4 linked regions of the Homo sapiens genome follow. The protein of the gene in region 1 purifies or fractionates together with the protein of each later gene. This does not show direct contact. Each region holds a gene or a part of one and is shown on either strand. Other genes may lie near its edges.

Region 1 (3,500 bases):
GGGAAGAAGGCATTTCAACAGCAGAAAAGAGGAAGAAGAGGGAGAAGAGAAAATGGAGAAACAAGAAATAAGCCAACACAAAAGAGGGGTGAAGAAAAGAGAGGGTGCAAAAGAGAACAAAGTAAAAACAAAAACAAAACAAAAAGGACAAACAAATCCCCAAAGAACTCTCCAACGGCAGGTTTCCTGGATGCTCCACCCTTCCTTATAATAAAGAAGGAAATGGATTTCTTGGGATTTGCCACTTCCTTCCCTCTGGGGCTCTTTCTCCACCACCCTCACTCCATTTGGCTCCCGGCTCCCTAGGCTGGGGTCAGCTGAGACAGCAAGGAACGCTGGCTCTTGGTGGGGCCCAGGACCTCAAATAGTCCACCCCTGGACAGGACAGGCTTTCCCAAAGAAGTTACACACAGATGCTTCCCAGCCCCGGCTCAGGAGGGCTAGGATCTGGGCTGTGACCACGTAAGGGCATCTTGGACACAATGCCAGGGTGTTGAGCTCACAACCAGTGGTCTGGAGCTTCGTGTAAACTGTGATCCTCAAACTCCTCCTTGAGGGAGGAAATGGGTGCCTTGGGAGGTCTATGGAAGCCTAAGGGAAGGTGTTTTATTTTAAATTTTCATGCAAATTTTGCATTATACTGCAGTGCTTCCCCCAATCCTGGATTAAGTATATGTATAAAAACACACACAAGTCTGGGCAACATGGCGAAACCCCGTCTCTACAAAAAGTACAAACATTAGATGGGCGTGGTGGCATGTGGCTGTCCCAGCTACTCGGGAGGCTGAGGTGGAGGTTACAGCGAGCTGAGATCACGCCACTGCACTCCAGCCTGGGCGACAGAGCAAGACCCCTGTCTCAAAAAATAAATGAACAAATTTTAAAAATAAATAAAAACAGACACAGATCAAATGACAAACCAAATGGGGTAAAATGTTAACATCAGACAAATCATATATGGATGGGCCTCGGACTATTTTTATATTTACAACTTCTTGTAAGCTTGAAATTGTTTCCAAATAAGTTTATTTTAAAACTCCACAAACCGATCAAGGCTTGGATATATAATTCTGCTTCCTACTATCCCCAGGAAAGGAGGAACCTGAAAGAATCCAAGAGAGGAAAGAGAAAAAGAGCACAAGGCTGGGAAGAGAAAAGCAGACAAGGAGGGGAAGGGGGAGAGGGACACGGAGGGAACAGAAGTCCAGGCCTCAGTCACCCCACCAGACTTGAGTCTTATCTCCAGCTGCCACTGCCCTGGGGGCAGGCTTATTGGTGGTTACCTCCCTGCCTGCCCTGAACCTACCCCTTTTGCACCAAACCTCAAATGGCCATAGAAAAAGGTAATCCCAGCCCCACGGCCAGTGAGGGGACTACAGCAACACTGCAAATGGCTGGTGCTGGGGCCCAGGCTGCTTCGGTGGCGTAGCCGCCACCACACCCATCCAGACATTCTTTGCTATGCACAGCTGACCTTAGTGCTATTCAGAAGCAGCTTCAAGTCAAGGTCCCTGGCCTGGCCTCTCTCCCTTCTCAGCCCCTTCTAGGCAGGTGCTCTGGTGCCCACACAAACCCTCAACTACAGTGAACACACCAACCCTCCTGGGAGATGAGTGCCCTGGTGTCTACAGGGGGGTTGGGGGCTGAGCTCAGGCCTCAGGAACCCTTTCGGCCTAGAGGCATCTCCCTCTGGCTCCCATGGGTGTGTGCAGACCAGCAATTCCTGTGGAAACCTCCAAGGATAAACTGATAGGCAAAGTCTTTCTTACAGGAAAATTCTATTTTAAAATGTAACTCATGTAATGAACAACAGAGGCTACAGGAACATGTGGATGAATCAGCACAAATCACCACTTGATAGAAAAACACCACCTATTAAGCTGTTTTCTTATACAAAAATAAATTTTTAAAAACTTAAGTTTAATTGCCAGAATTCATCTAAAATTCAGAGCCCCAAGATTCTTATTTGAGACTTTCCCCCCAACTGAATATTTTTTCTAGGAGAATATACAAGAACTTTATAAATTATCCAGAGTTATTAGGGACAGTTTTAAATTTAGAGAAAATCACATCATACTAATTTGTGTAACAGAATTTGACCTTAAATGTGAAATCAGGGGAACTATTCCCAACACAAAGAAATAAATACTCAAGGCGACAGATGCCCTAAACACGTGGCTTGATCATTACCCATTTTATGCAAGGGACAAAGTATCACATGCACCCCATCAATATGTAAAATATTATGTAGCAATAAAAAAATCAGGCTAACTTGCCAGAATTATTATGCCAAACATACAGAACATCAATGGAAACACACTTTGAAACATTACCTGCTTTGGATGTAATAACAAGAATTCGATTGTCCAATGTTTTTATCGTCTTCTTGAAGCCACAAAGAGCTTCAGAAAGCTGAATTTTCATTTTCATGATCAAGTCATGGCCTCGTCTCTGAAAGACACTATGATCCTTCTGATCAAGCACAATTATGACATCACCAGGCTCCAGCTCAGGCTCCTGATCTCCTTCTCCATGAAATAGTATCTTTTGCCCATCTTTCATACCTATGAAACATCATCCCTTTCTGATTAGCCATTTCTCATACAAACCATGCTTCCTTAAAGCTTTTGAAGAAGGAACAGAGTCCTTCAGGGATTCTTTATTCATCAAGTCTCCCAACCTCATGCAGGCACAAGGCAGGGAGGGGTGGCTAGGATGGCCAATGACAGAAGAGGTCCCGCTTCCCTTGGCATAATGTGGGGCCAAGCCCAGCATGCACAGGGAGTGGGGGAATGCGGCTCTACATCCCAGGTTTACACAGCACTCCCTGCCCAGGGCCTGTGATGCCACACCACCAGCATAGGGTCACCGCCCACTTCCCGGGGCACAGGGTGCATGACTTGGGACTGATAGGGACAGGTCAGCCAGCCCTGTCCTTTTCTAATAAGTCAGCTTGCACACTCAAGGCACAGGGTTTAGGCATGTTTAAACAGTAAGTCCTTTAATAACACCTGTGTCGGTTTGGCTGTTGATTCTTTTACTTTTGGTCTCATCTCTGATCTAGGATATATTTACTGGATTGGAAAGCCACAGAATCATCGGAATACTTGGAGGACAGCTAAAATGGAAAAAGGCCTTAAAATGATGGCATCAGGCAAAATGAATAGCAGGAGAAGGTGCTGTATTTGGGGGAATCTGATGCAGCACATGGGGAAATGTGGAGAAAGGGAACATGCAGCCACAAACACTTACACAAGCCCTTATGGCCAATGAGCATCAGAAGCGACCAGGAAGACACTCCGAAAGATTCTAGAGGAATGGCTTGAGAATGTCAGGAGATGGCAACTAACCCAAACCAAGGCCAGGTAAGACTTTCAGAGCGTTAGAAAACCTCATAAAGAGGCTGTCTGTGATCTCAAGGAAGTAAACCTCAGCAAGAACACTTTGGCAGGTGACATGGAATGGAAATAAGGCCAGGAAGGGTGAAGAGAAGACTGGGA
Region 2 (3,324 bases), on another chromosome or scaffold:
CTGATTCTGCCTATCATTAGTAGTTATACTTGGAAAGCAGAGGAATTTGTAGATGTGCCACAGATGAAAGATGTTAAGAATGTGTTATAGTGTTCTGATAAACCAGGTCTTTAGCAATATGTAATAGTGCCTACAGGTTGCACTGAATTAGAGCATTCTGTGTAAGGTCTGTTGCTTTGTTTTATGTAAAGTGAATAGGTGAGTAGTGACAAAGAACTAGGTTGTTCTTTCATTTTGGTTTTATTGGTGTTGACATTTACTATCAGTACCTGCCATTTTTTGAAATAAACATTATAATTTTTACATTACTTGGGTATGTTTTTAAGTCTTTTAAACCTCAATATCTCCTCACCTAGAAAAAATATTTTAGGAAACCGAAACTATGATGTTAAATAGTTTGCACAAGGTTTTGAGGCTAGTTGGAGCTAGGACAAAGAGCTTCTAGTTGAGAGATTTTTATAAACTGTGAATTCAGCCTTATTCCAGGGTTTTTTTGTTTTTTGTTTTCAAATTTTTTCTTTCAGCAAAGTAATAAAATGTTTAATTTTTATTAAAATATTAATGTACCTTTTTTTTTTTTTCCAGAGAGTAATGCCTTCTAGCTTTTTCCTGCTGTTGCGGTTTTTCTTGAGAATTGATGGGGTGCTTATCAGAATGAATGACACGAGACTTTACCATGAGGTATTTATTGTTGTTTAATGAATATACTAATTGATACTGGGCTTGTTTGTGTTGTTTAATTGTCAATCTGAGAATTTGAAATTAAACAATCTATATTATATGGCAGTCTTTCTAACTGTTAAGTCTGAGTGTTTCACATTCACTGTTGACTGCAGGCTATCATCAAAACATTACATTTCCTTTTACAAAGGTTCTGGTGACTCAAAATGTTTTCTAAAAGACACTCCCTAATTGGGGAGGGGTCTTTTGAGACAATTTTGTATGTACTTAATCCATGTTTAAGAAAACTGTCCTTTAACTCTTACCTTTGTTTACAGTATATGTTGTTTATGTAATGTCCTGATGTACATTAATATACAGGAAGTACATTAATATATTAATCAGGCCAAGGCCGGGCGCCGTAGCTCACGCCTGTAATCCCGGCACTTTGGGAGGCCGAGGTGGGTAGATCACCTGAGATCAGGAGTTCGAGACCAGCCTGGCCAACATGGTGAAACCCTGTCTCTACTAAAAATACAAAAAATTAGCCAGGCATGGTGGCACGGACTTGTAGTCCTAGCTGCTACTTGGGAGGCTGAGGTGGGAGGATTGCTTGAGCTGGTGAAGGTTGAGGCTGCAGTGACAGAGCAAGACCCTGTCTCAAAGAAAAAAAAAAAAAAGAAACATACCTAAGTTATACAGTTAGTAGGTGGCAGAATTGGAATTTGAACCTAGTAGGATAGGATTGGATTGATGCTTTCTAAACCCTTCACTTAGGGATTTTTTCTTGAAATAACATGGTTATAGTGATAGACCTTTTTTCTTTTAAAAGTGGTGGCAAAGTACTAAACATAAGCTATATTTTTGTTCCCCAGAAAGAGAAATCTAAATTTTATTTTTATTTATTTATTTGAGATGGATGGAGTCTTGCTCTGTTGCCCAGGCTGGAATGCAGTGGCGCGATCTTGGCTCACTGCAACCTCTGCTTCCTGAGTTCAAGCAATTCTCATGTCTCAGCCTCCCTAGTAGCTGGGATTACAGGCGCCCACCACCACACCTGGCAATTTTGTTGTTGTTGTTTTTAATGGAGTGATGGGGTTTCACCATGTTGGCCAGGCCGGTCTTGAACTCCTGACCTCAAGTGATCCAATTGCCTCGGCCTCCCAAAGTGCTGGGATTATAGGCGTGAGCCACACCGCTCCTGGCCTAAATGTTAAAAATACTGTTTTAATTAAACAATATTGAATTTTAGGAATTTATCCTAAAAAGATTCTTTTATATAATAATCTACTAATATTAATTGGGCAATTACTCAGAGTTATACGTACATGAATATTCACAGTAGTATTGTTTATAATAGCAGAAAGGAAGGAAAGTAGGAACTTAATGCCCATTAAATGGCCATTAATTAAATTGTTTATATCCATATGGTATAAAATATATAATTATTAAAATTGGTTGCAGAGATTGATATTTAAGTAATTTTGAAAGATATTCATTTCAGTGTTGAACTTTCAAAAGCAAGTATGAATCTACTTACATAAGATTCTCTGTAGAGATTTCTAAGTATTAAAGATAGTGTTACCTATAAGCTGTGATCACTGATGATTTATACTTTTATATTATTTGATTTTTTTCCTACAGTGACTATTAATCTGTTTTTATTAATACAAGAGAGTGAAACCTTAAAGGCATATAATTTTGTGGCTTTTCTTTTATTGAAAAGTGTTTCAAGAAGTAAATTATAATAAGTTGCTGTTCTAAAACCTAACCAAAAATCTTAAATGGGAAAAATTGAAGTACAAAAAAGGTGATTTTAAGTAAGCTATTTGGTAAGAGCTTTATGGAATGGGAAAGAATAAAAATTTTAAAGCATGTTTTGCAACATAAAAGTAGCACAATTACGTAGGTAAATGATAAGATAGCTTAAGGGAAAGATGTTTCAAACTTGAAGTAATTTTAAAATCTCTTGCATATTTCATTTATACAAATTCATTATATACATTATTCATTTATATACATATTCTTTCAAAGTAAAATCTTTGCTATGTTTCTCTTACATGGTAATTATAAAATCTGTTTACATATGTGTATCATCATTATAATGTATAGAAATTGGAAATAATAATCCAATTTGAGTTAAATAGGAGTTATCTCAGTGTAGAACAAGATGTTCTCTTTAGACTGCATGCTGTTTTGACAACCTATCCTAAAATGTAGGCAGTCTGTTTTTAATACAAAGGATTTTGTAAATCAGTATAATTAAATTTATTGCAACTGTTTATTTTTAAATACAGGCTGACAAGACCTACATGTTACGAGAATATACGTCACGAGAAAGCAAAATTTCTAGTTTGATGGCAAGTACTTAAATTTCAGTTTTTAGAAGTTAATTTTAATGTTTCATTTTAATTTAAGTAGCATATACCCCTGACCCCAACCACCCAAGTTTACATCCCTAAACCCATTCATTCACCTAATGGGGCTCTATAGGATAAATTCTATGGGAGCATAACTTTTCTGACCTTACCTCAAATACAAGAACATTTAGAGCTGCTAGGTACTTAAGCCTCATCTAATCTAATTTTCACATTTTGTTCTAGAGAAATTGAAACCCAGAGGTGTGACTTACTCTGAGTCACATAGCTGGCTGGTGATGGATGT
Region 3 (3,500 bases), on another chromosome or scaffold:
TATCATTTCAGTTCTTTAAAACTTACAATTTTCTTGGACTTTTTTGCAGTTGAGTCGCTCTTGACAGCTATAAGTGAAGTCAGGAAGGAGATTGAAGACTTGCAGTATAGGGAACAAAAGCGCATTGCAATTCAGGGGATAATTACTGCTATAAAGTATATCCCCCATAGCAGTGCGACTGAAAGTGCCTCAGCATCAGAAACACTTCGGGTATGGTGCCAGAGAATTAATAGTATTTCTCTGAAAGCACTGTGATTATGATTGCAATTGGTACCTTTTACATTTTATTCAGAACTCACGTGTATTGACTCTTAATAATGTAAGCCTAAGAGAAAACATTAGGTTGGTGCAAAAGGCATTGTGGTTTTTGCCTATAAAAGTAATGGCAAAAACCGCAATTCCTTTTGCACCAACCTAATATTTTTACTTTTTTGTTTGTTTCCTTTTTGTGTCATTTATTTGGGGGCAGACTAGGCCAATAATGATTATAGCCTCTTGACATTTCCCAAGGCCCTCAAAACTTGGTATCCTGTTTTTGCATTCTGTGTAATTTGAGGCTATTGTGGGTGTTTTAAATTTCTAGGTGGTATCTATGACTATATTAATTTCCTACCTTTTGTCCAGGCCAGTACTACAGGAAAGCTTTCATAGGAAGTTTTCTCTATATCTGGCATAGTAGTCTTACCCAGGTTCTATAACTCTTCTAGAATAAATAGTTTAGTATTATAGAAGATGCCAGTTCTGGAATATTGGCACAATCAAGACAAGTTAATTTTTCCCATGAGTTTATCTTTTTAAACACTACGTCCAGGACTACTACTATTTATATGGAAATAAGTGTTTAATCCAGCTTTTCAGATAGTAGTATAAGAAGGACTTTTGTTTGTCTTCCTTTTAAAAAATATTTTAATAGCAGATGGATTAGATTCAATCATTTTCATAAAAGCACTGTTATGATTGAAGTTTTGCCAGAACTGTTGATTATGAAAAATGAATACACTAAAATTGTAGTCTTTTATGAGATTAATAATTGTGAATTAGCCTAAAGTGTTTTCTCTAAATTATTGGTTTTAGAATGCTAACAGACCCTCGACCTCTCAAGCAGCTAGAGTAGAAATTCAAGAAAGAAATGGTAAACGGCATCAAGATGATGAGCCTGTGAATTCTCAGTATTTCCAAACTACATCTACAAATTTAAGTCTGAGCAATAAAATAAGAATTCTTCAAGGCCCACACGCTAATCCGTAAGTCATTTGTATTAAGTATATGTAAAGTATATTTTTTCTTTTGGGTTATCTCTACCCTGTAAAATAAGCAATTATCGTAGAAGCTGTATTAATTTGTTAGGGCCCCCATAACAAAATACCACAACTGAGTGACTTAAACACTGAAATTTGTTGTCTCAGAGTTCTGGAGGATAGAGTTCAAGATCAAGGTGTCAACAGCATTGGTTCCCTCAGGGCTGCGAGAGAGAATCTGTTCAATGCCTCTCTCCTAGCCTCTTAGGGTGCTGGCAATCTTTGGCATTCCTTAACTTGTAGAAGCATCACCCCAATCTCTGCCTTCATATTCACATGGAGTTCTCTCTGTGTAATGTCTGTGTCCAAATTTCACCTTTTTCATAAGGATACCACTCATATTGGATTAGGGGACCACCCTAATCCAGTATGACGTCATCTTTATCAGTAACATCTGCTATGACCCTATTTCCAAATAAGGTCATATTCAGAAGTCCTGAGGGTTAGGACTTCATCATATGAATTTTGTGGGGACACAATTTAACCCATAAGTCTGCCCTCTGGTCCCACAAAATTCCTGTCCTTCTCATATGCAAAATAGGTTCACCTCATCACAACATCCCCAAAAGTCTTATCCCATAGCACCATCAATTCTAATCCAAAATCTCATCTAAATTTCATATGGATGTAATTCATCCATCCATGATCATGGTGATTTATCCTGGGGCAAAATTCTTCTGCATCTGTATACCTATAAAATCAAACAAGTTATCTGTCCAGAATACAGTGATGAGATAGGTATAGGATAGACACTCCCATTCTGAAAGAGAGAAATTGGAAAGAAAAGGGGGATCATGGGTCACAAGCAACTCCAAAACCTAGCAAGGCAAATAAATTGCATTAGATTTTAAGGCTTCAGAATTATTCTCTTCGCCACAGTCTTATGTCCTCTGGGCTCACTGGGGTAGCATCCCCACTTCTACAATCCTGGGTGATGGCCCCACACTCTGGAACCAAGGAAATGAACCCACCCTCTGGAATTGAAAAGGGAGCACTTGTCCTCTGAAACCAAGGAGGTAGTCTCACTCCCAAGGTCATTCTTCCATTTTCCTGAACAACAAGAACATTATAGCTTACATTTGCTTACCAGTTGTTTAAGCATGGGTCTTTACTACAAAACATTCATACATTATGAATTGTACATGATTGGAAGTTTTGGTTTCTTTAAAGTGTCAGGAAAGCCCAAACACTCATAAAGCAGAGTGCAGAATCACTTTAGATTTTAAGATTTTAAAAATTCCAATCTTTTAGAGTGTGCCCGGGTGCACAGCAGTTTTTGGTTGTGAATAAGTAATAGGTAAAATTTTTAATTTATTTTTTAAAATTGTTTAACTTTTAATTTTTGTGGGTACATTTAGTAGGTATATATATATTTATGGGGGTACATGAGATGTTTTGATACAAGCATACAATGTGAAATAAGAATGTCATGGAGAATGGGGTATCCATCCCATCAAGCATTTATCCTTTGTATTACAATCAAATTACACTCTTTTAGTTACATTTAAATGTACAATTAAGTTATTATGGACTATAGTCACTCTGATGTGCTATCAAGTAGTAGGTCTTATTCATTCTTTCTAGCTATTTATTTGTACCCGTTAAACGTCTTCACTTCCCCGCACCCCCCTGCTACCCTTCCCAGCTTCTGGTAACCGTCCTTCTAAACTCTACCTTTATGAGTTCACTTGTTTGATTTTTAGATCCCACAAATAGGTGAGAACATGGAATGTTTATCTTTCTATGCTTGGCTTATTTCACTTAACATAATGATCTCCAGTTCCATCCATGTTGTTGCAAATCACTGGATCTCATTTTTATGGCTAAATAGTACTCCATTGGGTATATGTATCACATTTTCTTTATCCACTCATCTGTTGATGGACATGTAGGTTGCTTCCAAATCTTAGCTATTATAAACAGTGCTGCAGCAACATAGGAGTGCAGATATCTCTTTGGTATACTGATTTCCTTTCTCCTGGGTGTATACCCAGCAGTGGAATTGCTGGATCACATTGTATTTCAATTTTCAGTTTCTTTGAGGAACCTCCAAACTGTTCTCCATAGTGGTTGTACTAATTTACATTCCCACCAACAACGTACAGAGTTCCTTTTCTCCACATCATCACCAGCATTTGTTATTGCCTGTATTTTGGATTTAAGCCGTTTTAACTGAGGTAAAATGGTATCTATCCACGGCTT
Region 4 (3,500 bases), on another chromosome or scaffold:
TGTTTCTTCCCAACAAGGTAGAAAAGGCCCTTAAAAGTGACGACCCTGAAGCTCGTGAATTAGCAACTGCATTCAGAGGCTCGTTTCTAAGCCTTGGCTTATCTGGGCAACTGCTGTTCCAGTAAAGGAAAATATGTTCAGAAAACATGTAATAGAGAAGGCATTTATGAGCACTTGGAAAAGCCATAAGCATATGAAGCCTCCTCGGTTGGCGGTGGTTTTATTACTCTCCCATTCCACTGGACAAATTATTCTTCAATATGACACATGAAATTTATATGAGTGGACTCTCAAGAATTTTCTTAAGATGCAAAACAAAAATTATCCTTAAAATATGATGAAATGCCGTGGCTACACTGCATAGAACCCAGGAATGGGAGACACCGCTAATGATATGGATCAAAGGCAATCAGTCAGTACAGAGTAAGAAAGGCCACAATGGAGGAACTGAGTGCACCTCTGCGCTTCAGCGCCGCGCTCTGCAGGGCGTGGCCACCTGGTCCTGGTCCACGTGCCTCAGCACAGAGGCCGCAGACAAATGCCACTGCTCCCGGAGAGAAGCTCTCGGCAGAGCACAGGCGCTGAGCCCGACAAACGTGTTCCGTAAGGGTCCAGGTGGGAGATGTTACCGGCTTTGCGGGCCACGGTCTCTGGCAACTGCCTACTGTGCCGTGGAAGCACAAAGGCACCCACAGACGACACTCAGGTGAACGGCAGGATTGGACTGAGTTTGCTGGCCCTGGTCTAGTGGATGGCTGGCAACTTCTCCACCTGGCTGACCTTGGCCTCCCCAAGACAGTGGTATGGATGGGCACACACAGAGTGGCACACAACGGTCATCCAGCCTTGGCCATAGCCTCACTGGGAAATCAGTTGTGGCTGTCATTTTTTTGAGACGGGGTCTTGCTCTGTTGTCCAGGCTGGAGTGTGATGGTGCAATTACGGCTCACTGCAGCCTCGAACACCTGGGCTCAAGCCACCCTACCTCAGCCTCTTGAGCAGCTGGGACTACAGGCATGTGCCACCAAGCCTGGCTAATTTTTTAAAATTATTTTTTGTAGAGATGAAGTCTCACTACGTTGCCCAGGCTGGTCTCGAACTCCTGGCCTCCAGTGATCCTCCTGCCTTGGCCTCCCAAAGTGCTGGGATTACAGGAATGAGCCACCACACCCGGACACTTTTTATCAACAACACCTCCCCGCTATGCCCCCCTCTCTGGCGAGGAGACCCCCGTGCTTTCCTTGGTGCACCTGCATACTCTGAAGGCCTCCATGGGGTCAACACTGCCCCAAGGGGGTAAAATTTGGCTCTTGGAGGAGCCAAGGAAAACCCCTCCCTGTGGCCAGTTCGATGTTAAGACGAGTAAATGTGGCCACATACGTGCGCCACAATCAGACACGCCCCTCTCTGGAACCGCAGGCTCAGGGAAGGGCTTTATACAACGAATCCCGAGAGAGGCTCAGAGCCAGTCACAGGGACGTTCCACTGGTCCCAGATCAAGTGTGAAAGCAGTGACAGGGGAGATGAAAGGCCACGTCTGCAGTCACCTGAGACATTGTGCTAAAATGCAGCAGCACTCAGTCCAGTTCCTAGCAGCAAAAGTGGAATGACGTCTCCACGGACACAGTGGCCCTGCCCACCGCAGCAGCACCAGCACCAGCACAAGTGGCTCCTCAAAATCAGTGCAATGAAAGGAAATCGGAGACCCTCACTCACACAGCCGCCTTCCCCCAACCCAGCGGCTGCCGTGCTAAACAGCACAGCACTGCAGCTTCTGTCCCCGGATGGAAGAGAGATGCCGGATCAGAATGTGGGGTTGGGGCCCTCTGATTTCCTGGGTGACATAGGTAAAAGAATATAATAAACAAGGAAACTGCCAGGAAACAAATTTAAATTGGAGGCTGAGTCCCCCGAATGCTCAGAGAATTCTCAAAGTAGCTGCAAAAGGTGTGTGAGAGGGCCTGGGTGTGTGCAGATCTGGAGACGCCCCGACAGGTTTCTTTTGCAAAAATTTCTGATGTAGCCATATTTTCTTGTAATCCTACAGTTTTTACTAAACACTGAACACACGTGAATGTTTGGGTTGCAAAGGCGGTGTGTGTCGGCTCATGGGTGACGCTAAGGCGGTGTGTGTCAGCTCTGGGTGATGCTAAGGGGGTGCGTGTCGGTCTGGGTAAGGGGGTGCGTGTAGGCTCTGGGTGACGCTAAGGGGGTGCGTGTCAGTCTGGGTGATACTAAGGCGGTGCGTGTCGGTCTGGGTGATGCTAAGGGGATGCGTGTCGCTCTGGGCGGTTGTGTAACATGGATGTAGAGAACGCGACAGCACCCACGGCTCACCTGGGAACACAAAGCCAGGACGGCGCTCTCCAACACTTCTCCCGCCTGCTCACCGGAGAAGTATCCTCCTGCAAGCACAGCCTCGGTCACATGGGGGCTGGGTCCAGTCCAAAACCACCCCCAATACCAACATGCCCTGAGTGCACTTTCCAAATCGGCCATATAGGAGGCCTGTTTTGGGTGAACACATCAGTGTCATTGCTGTCCCCAGCCCAGATGTGACCCAAGGAATGTGCTGCTCAGGGGCCGAGTTCTGAGACCCTTTTCCCACTCAGGCATTGATGGTCTCTGGCCCGCGGCAGCGAGGGAGGCAAGGTCCCAGGCTCAGAGGTGACAGGTGGCCGCTGGGCTCATACCTGCTGGGGTTCAGGGAGGCTGGGCGGGTTCCTTCCTCGGGAGAAAGTGAGGAAGGGGCTCCTGGGCAGAGTGAAGCAGGGGTGCATGGCAGGGGGCGCAGGGGCGAGGGGGTGCCTGGGACCACCCAGGGGAGTTGGGGGCGGTGGGCACCTGCAGGGACTCAGAGGCCGCAGGGGGACTTGGTCCTTGGTGTCACCTCCAGCCGCTGTGGTTTCTGGCAGGGCCCTAAGAGGTCCAAGGCTGTGGCCTTGTGCGTTCGGGAGCACATCTGTGGTGGGATCTGCGTTTGCTGTGATTTCCGCTGGAGAGAACTGTGTCTCATCACTTAGGGTTTTTCTCAGGCAGCAGTGGGGCTCCTGCCCTGTGCCCGCCCTCTCTGGCAGACACTTGTGTCCCTTCCTTGGTGCACCTGAGCACTGTCAAGGCCTCCACGGGGTCAGCACCACCCTCCAGGGGGTAAACGCTGGCTCTTGGGGTGGGGAGGATCTTATTCTTCACAAGCCCAGAGACACAGGACATGAATGGATATGCAGTGTATCCTAGTACCAAAGATGCATGGGTGCCAGCCATTGGGAAAAACCACCTAAAAAGCTTCCTGGGGGGCAAAGACGAACAAAAAGTTGACAAACTTTGGTTTAGCCTATTCCCACCAATCCTCCAGGAATCAGCCCCAGCACCCCCTCCTCCAGGAAGCCTTCCAGTATTCCCAAGTCTAGGCACTCCTGGCTCGTGTCTGTCTGTGCCTTATGGGACCTAGTGGGTGGGCTTCTGCTCTCTGCAGAGCCCGGCAGGCTGCCTGGCATGAG

What was found. The genes of interacting proteins can lie anywhere in the genome.
Region 2: the proteins of DNAJA4 (region 1) and TIPRL purify together in Homo sapiens (affinity purification with mass spectrometry, with the first as the bait; one large-scale study listed by BioGRID). This does not show direct contact.
Region 3: the proteins of DNAJA4 (region 1) and RADX purify together in Homo sapiens (affinity purification with mass spectrometry; one study listed by BioGRID and IntAct). This does not show direct contact.
Region 4: the proteins of DNAJA4 (region 1) and ACOX3 purify together in Homo sapiens (co-immunoprecipitation; one large-scale study listed by IntAct). This does not show direct contact.

What each region holds. Positions count from the first base shown.
Region 1 is NC_000015.10:78,274,562-78,278,061, reverse strand, and holds part of DNAJA4 (dnaJ homolog subfamily A member 4), read right to left. Parts: exon of another isoform or gene 2,962-3,500; intron 2,565-2,961; coding exon 2,334-2,564; intron 1-2,333.
Region 2 is NC_000001.11:168,195,962-168,199,285, forward strand, and holds part of TIPRL (TIP41-like protein), read left to right. Parts: intron 1-585; coding exon 586-681; intron 682-2,957; coding exon 2,958-3,020; intron 3,021-3,324. UniProt on the Homo sapiens protein: May be a allosteric regulator of serine/threonine-protein phosphatase 2A (PP2A). Isoform 1 inhibits catalytic activity of the PP2A(D) core complex in vitro. The PP2A(C):TIPRL complex does not show phosphatase activity.
Region 3 is NC_000023.11:106,639,478-106,642,977, forward strand, and holds part of RADX (RPA-related protein RADX), read left to right. Parts: intron 1-49; coding exon 50-210; intron 211-336; exon of another isoform or gene 337-419; intron 420-1,074; coding exon 1,075-1,244; intron 1,245-3,500.
Region 4 is NC_000004.12:8,371,224-8,374,723, forward strand, and holds part of ACOX3 (peroxisomal acyl-coenzyme A oxidase 3), read right to left. Parts: intron 3,290-3,500; exon of another isoform or gene 2,845-3,289; intron 2,406-2,844; coding exon 2,338-2,405; intron 1-2,337. UniProt on the Homo sapiens protein: Oxidizes the CoA-esters of 2-methyl-branched fatty acids.